2 separate regions of the Homo sapiens genome follow, and region 1 is linked to region 2. Evidence: fine-mapped expression QTL. A gene starts in region 2. The other region holds a variant in brackets. All regions are shown on one strand. Distances are from middle to middle.

Region 1 (2,810 bases), 22 kb after region 2:
AAAGGTTTGTCAATTTTGTTGATTTTTTTCTTTTAAAATTTATTTTTCTGTATTATTTTATTTGTATTATAGATTGCTCCTTCAGAATATTTTTTTCAAGAAATCAACTTTTTGTTTCATAGCTGTTCTCTATAGTTTTCTATTCCCTATTTCACTTATCTCAGTTGTAGTCTTTATTATTTTTAAAAATTCTAGCTTTGAGTTTAGTTTTTCTTTTTCTAGCTCCTTAAGGTGTGCAGTTAGAAAATTTCAAATCTTTCTTCTTCTCTTCTCCTCCCCCTCCTCCTTCTTCCTCCTCGCCCTTCCTCCTCCTCCCCCTCCTCCTGTTGGGGTGATCAGACCCAACACCAGGTCGTGGGGGTGACAAAGTCCGGTGGAGTCAAAGGATTGAGACAAAGACAGTTTGAGAGATAAAGGTGGGACACCAAGGGGCCATCGTGATCATGGAGGCTGCGAAAGCCCTGCGCTCTGGGAGTCCACAGTATTTATTGGTAATCCAACAAAGAAACAGGTGGTGAGGCATGTTCTCACTCATAGGTGGGAATTGAACAATGAGAACACTTGGACACAGGAAGGGGAACATCACACACCGGGGCCCGTTGTGGCGTGAGGGGAGGGATAGCATTAGGAGATATACTTAATGTAAATGACGACTTAATGGGTGCAGCACACCAACATGGCACATGTATACATATGTAACAAACCTGCACGTTGTGCACATGTACCCTAGAACTTAAAGTATTAAAAAAAAAAAAAAGAAACAGGTGGTGAGAATGTGGAGGTCAAAAGGGCAGGCGCATGATCTACAGCTGTGACAGTTTAGCATTTATATGGAACATGTTCTGCTACTTGAGATAATGGGAATAGGAGCCTAGGAGGGCTAGAAGCAAGGAGCCAGCAAGTCTAGACACATTCCAGAGGACATTATGCAAGTCCTGCCTCAGTTTCCCTCCCAACACTCAGCTTTTTCCCAACATCCTCCTCCTCCTTCTTCTTTTTTTCTTTCTCTTCCTCTTCCTTTCTTTCCTCCTTCTCTCTTTTTTGTAGAGATGGGGTTTTGCTATGTTAATCCAGGTTGGTCTTGAACTCCTGGCCTAATATGATTCTCCTGCCATGGACTCCCAAAGTGTTGAGATTACAGGCATGAGCCACCACACCTGGCCCTTTCTTTAAAAAAATTTTTTTTTTTTAATTTTTAAAAATTTTTTTGAGACAAGGTCTTGCTCTGCTGCCCAAGCTGGAGTACAGTGCTGTAATCTCAGCTCACCGTAGCCTCGACCTCTTGGGCTCAAGTGATTCTCATCCCTCAGCCTTCCAAGTTACTGGGACTACAGGCACGTGCCACCATGCCTGGCGAATTTTTCCTATCTTTCTTGTAGAGACAGGGTTTAGCCATGTTGCCCGAGCTGGTCTCCCTCAATCCTGCCCCCTTGGCCTCCCAAAGCACTGGGACTACAGGCATGATCCACCGCGCCAGGGTGCTTTCTTCTTTTTTGATTGTGTTTATGGCTAAAAATTTTCCTCTTAGCACAGCTTTGCTGCATCCCATAAGTTTTGGTATGTTGTGTTTTCATTTTCATTTGTCTCAAGGTATTTTTATATTTCCTTTGTGATTTTTGCTTTGATCCATTGGTTGTTAAGCATGTGTTGTTTAATTTCCAAATATCATGAATT[T/G]TCAGGGTTTTTTTCCTGTAATTTATTTACTTTTTTTTTTTTTGAGCCAGGATGGAGTGCAGTGGTGTGATCATGGCTCACTGAAGCACTGATCTCCTGGGTTCAAGTAGTTCTCTCGCCTCAGCCTTCTGAGTAGCTGGTACCATAGGTGTGTGCCACCATGCCTGGCTAATTTTTGTTTTGAAACAGGGTCTCACTCTGTGGCCCAGGCTGGAGTGCAGTGGTGCGATCATGGCTCACTGCAGCCTTGATCTCCTAGGTTCAGGTGATCCTCCCACCTCAGCCTCCTGGGAAGCTGGGACTACAGGTGCACACCACTACACCAGCTAATTTTTTGTATTTTTAGTAGGGATGGGATGTCACCATGTTGCCCAGGAAGTTCTGAACTCTTGGGCTCAAGCAGTTCATTTCCCTCAGCCTCCCAAAGTATTGGGATTACAGGTGTGAGCCACCACACCCAACTTATTTTTATTTTTAGAGATGGGGTTTCTCTATGTTTCCCAGGCTGATCTTGAACCCCTGGGCCCAAGAGATCCTCCCAACTTCTCCTCCCAAAGTGCTGTGATTACAGGTGTGAGTCACCGTGCTCAGCCCCTTCTATTATCGAGTTCTAGTTTCATTCCATTGTGACTGGAAAATATACTTTCTATGATTTTAATTATTTAAAATATAACAAGGCTTGTTTTGTCGCCTAACGTACTGTCTGTCCTGAGGAATATTCCATATGCACTTGAAAGAAATGTGTATCCTGCTGTTATGGAGTGGAATGTTGTATATATACAAGTGTCCAAGTGTTTTATAAATGTTCAAGACTTCTATTTCCTTACTGGTCTTGTGGCTAGTTGTTCCATCAATTATTGAAAATGGAGTATTGAAGTCTCCAACTACTTATTGTTGCATTGTCTATTTCTCCTTTCAATGATGTAATGTTTGCTTTACATATTTTAAGGTCACATTGTTTGGTGCATATATATTATTACTTATTCTTGATGAATTGACCCTTTTAGTAATGTATAATGTCATTTTTGTCTTTTGTAACAATTCTTTATTTAAATTCTATTTTGTGGTCAGGTGCAATGGCTCATGCCTGTAATCCCAGCACTTTGGGAAGCTGAGGTGGGCAGATCACTTGAGGT
Region 2 (2,810 bases):
AGTCTCTGGTACTCAGATGCTGGGCTGCATCAGATAGGATGCACAGGATCATCCTGGAAGCTTGTTGACATAGATTCCTGTGCAACACTCAGATATAGTCTTAATGTAGATTTGTGTTGGGTGGTATGGTAGGTAGAATAATGGCCTACCACTCTGAAACATATGAATATGTTACCTAACATGACAGAAGAGAATTAAGTTGCTAATCAGATGACTGTAAAATAAATTATCCTGGATCATCTGGATGGGCCTAATGTAATCACAAAGGTTGTTTCCTTGCCTTTTCCAGCTTGGCTCTGGCTCCCTTCCTCCAGCAAGGGTGGGTTGAGCTCTCACATGGCACCACTTTGACCTCTTCTGCTTCCCTCTTCTACACTGAAAGACTTATGGGCCAGGAGCAGTGGCTCGCACCTGCAATCCCAGCACTTTGGGAGGCCGAGGAAGGCAGATCGCTTGGCCCCAGGAGTTCAAAACCGTCCTGGGCAACGTGGCGAAACCCCATCTAGAAAGAAAAGAAGAGAAGGGGAGGGGGGAGGGGAGGAGGAGTTACATATATACACATACACACACACACACACGTACGTACATACATACATACACGCTAACTGGACGTGGTGGTGCGTGCCTGTAGTCTTAGCTTTCCAGGAGACTGAGGTGGGAGGACCACTTGAGCCTGAGATCGCGCCAGCCTGGGTGACAGTCAGACCATGTCTCAAAAAAAAAAAAAGATTTGTGATTAGGATTCTTAGTCCTCACCTGTATTATTTTCCTATTGCTACTGTAACAAATTACCACAAATTTACTGGCTTAAAACGACGCAAGTCTGTAGGTCAGAAGTCTGACACGGGTCTTAACTGGTGACCCGAGTCAGATTTGGGACACAAAGAACAGAAACCAAGCTGTGCAGGTTTCTGACAGGCAGTCCGGTTAGGGAGCCCTACAGCAACCCGCCGGTCCTCTCTCTCAGGCAGTTGCTGCCATGGCTCATTATTCCAACCGGTTCTCCTCAGCCCAGTCTATCTCAGTGGCTCCATTCATAGGGTGATGTGCCCGGCGGGACACTAACCCTAACCAAGCAGAGAGACGGTCATGCCCGTCACGACCTCGGCCCTCGCCCCGGCCGAGGCTTCTCCTGCAGGTCGCGAGAATCAGGTGCGTCAGCGGCGTCCGGGAACGCCGGAAGAGCCAGTGGAGCGGCTCTGTAGTCCAAAGTACCCCGTCGACCCCAGCACGGCCGCTCCACCGCCTCCTACTAGACCCAGTCCTAGGGACTGCGCAGTCGCAGAGCTCCGTCCGAGTACCGGAAGCCTAGGCCGCCAGCACTTCCGGGAAGTGACTTCGTCTCCGAAGCCGATTGGTTGTTGCTTTGCTCCCGCTCGCGTCGGTGGCGTTTTTCCTGCAGCGCGTGCGTGCTGCGCTACTGAGCAGCGCCATGGAGGACTCTGAAGCACTGGGCTTCGAACACATGGGCCTCGATCCCCGGCTCCTTCAGGTACACGCGAGGGCTGGGGAGCCGGCTTACGGGCTCTGCGGGGCGCGCCATCGCTCTTCACGCCGCTTAAACCGCACTCCTGGTCTCCTAGGCTGTCACCGATCTGGGCTGGTCGCGACCTACGCTGATCCAGGAGAAGGCCATCCCACTGGCCCTAGAAGGGAAGGACCTCCTGGCTCGGGCCCGCACGGGCTCCGGGAAGACGGCCGCTTATGCTATTCCGATGCTGCAGCTGTTGCTCCATAGGAAGGCGGTGGGTAACGAGAGAGCTGAGGGGAGGAAGGAGGCAAGCTCCAAAAGCCTGGGAAGGGCGGTTCCCGTTTGTCTGAGGTTTTCTCTTGGCCCTGTACCCGTGCAGGCCGGCCTGAGAACCTGGTGCTGTTGTGGCAAACACTCTGGGCTGGAGTTCAGGTTACCTGGATCCTTGTCCGGCCCTGCTACCACCAACCTTTGCGTAATCTTCGACAAAGCACTTTCTTTTCTTTCTTACATAAAAAGGGAGCACATCTATCTTTTCTACTTACAGAATTATTGTGAGAATTTAGCTTCATAACTAGTATATTTAAAGTAGCTTCATAAACATCAGAGTACGTTATTCTTTTTGAGGGTCAGTGCCTGGGGAAAGAACTCTCCACTCTGCATTCTGAGGCGGGCAGAGTGATAGATGATCAAAGTACTGCTAAGTAGTGTTGCAGCAGATGGGTCAGGTAGGCTGGAAGGGGTAGAGACACGTGGACACAGTGATGTGCACTGCTGGCTAAAGTCTTTAATTCATATTCTTACAGACAGGTCCGGTGGTAGAACAGGCAGTGAGAGGCCTTGTTCTTGTTCCTACCAAGGAGCTGGCACGGCAAGCACAGTCCATGATTCAGCAGCTGGCTACCTACTGTGCTCGGGATGTCCGAGTGGCCAATGTCTCAGCTGCTGAAGACTCAGTCTCTCAGAGGTGGGTAAAAGCAGCAAAGCTGTACCTGAATGAAGCTACACAGTGTTGTGGGGTTGGGTTTGTGTGTGGCAAAAAAGAGAGCAAATCCAGGGTGAGATCCCAGCTGCTACATTCTGCCTGATACTGATGTCTTGTCCACCTCCAGAGCTGTGCTGATGGAGAAGCCAGATGTGGTAGTAGGGACCCCATCTCGCATATTAAGCCACTTGCAGCAAGACAGCCTGAAACTTCGTGACTCCCTGGAGCTTTTGGTGGTGGACGAAGCTGACCTTCTTTTTTCCTTTGGCTTTGAAGAAGAGCTCAAGAGTCTCCTCTGGTAAGGCAGAGGTGGGTGTGATTCCTAGTGGAAACATCTGTGAGTAGGAGTTGGGA

The links. PIP is the estimated chance that this variant, and not a neighbour inherited with it, causes the effect.
Region 1: its variant is the best candidate, but not a certain one, in a credible set for the expression of DDX56 in whole blood (TOPMed, PIP 0.70).

What each region holds. Positions count from the first base shown.
Region 1 is chr7:44,550,842-44,553,651 of GRCh38, reverse strand. No RefSeq gene overlaps it. Among named protein-coding and RNA genes, the nearest start is that of NPC1L1, 11 kb to the right of the region's middle. The variant T/G (reference allele first, on the strand shown) is at 1,675.
Region 2 is chr7:44,572,518-44,575,327 of GRCh38, reverse strand. It overlaps DDX56 (DEAD-box helicase 56), which reads left to right and starts at 1,420. Exons shown (of 14, transcript NM_019082.4): 1 at 1,420-1,492; 2 at 1,584-1,745; 3 at 2,278-2,438; 4 at 2,584-2,754. The coding sequence starts at 1,433. RefSeq lists an enhancer at 1,654-1,803.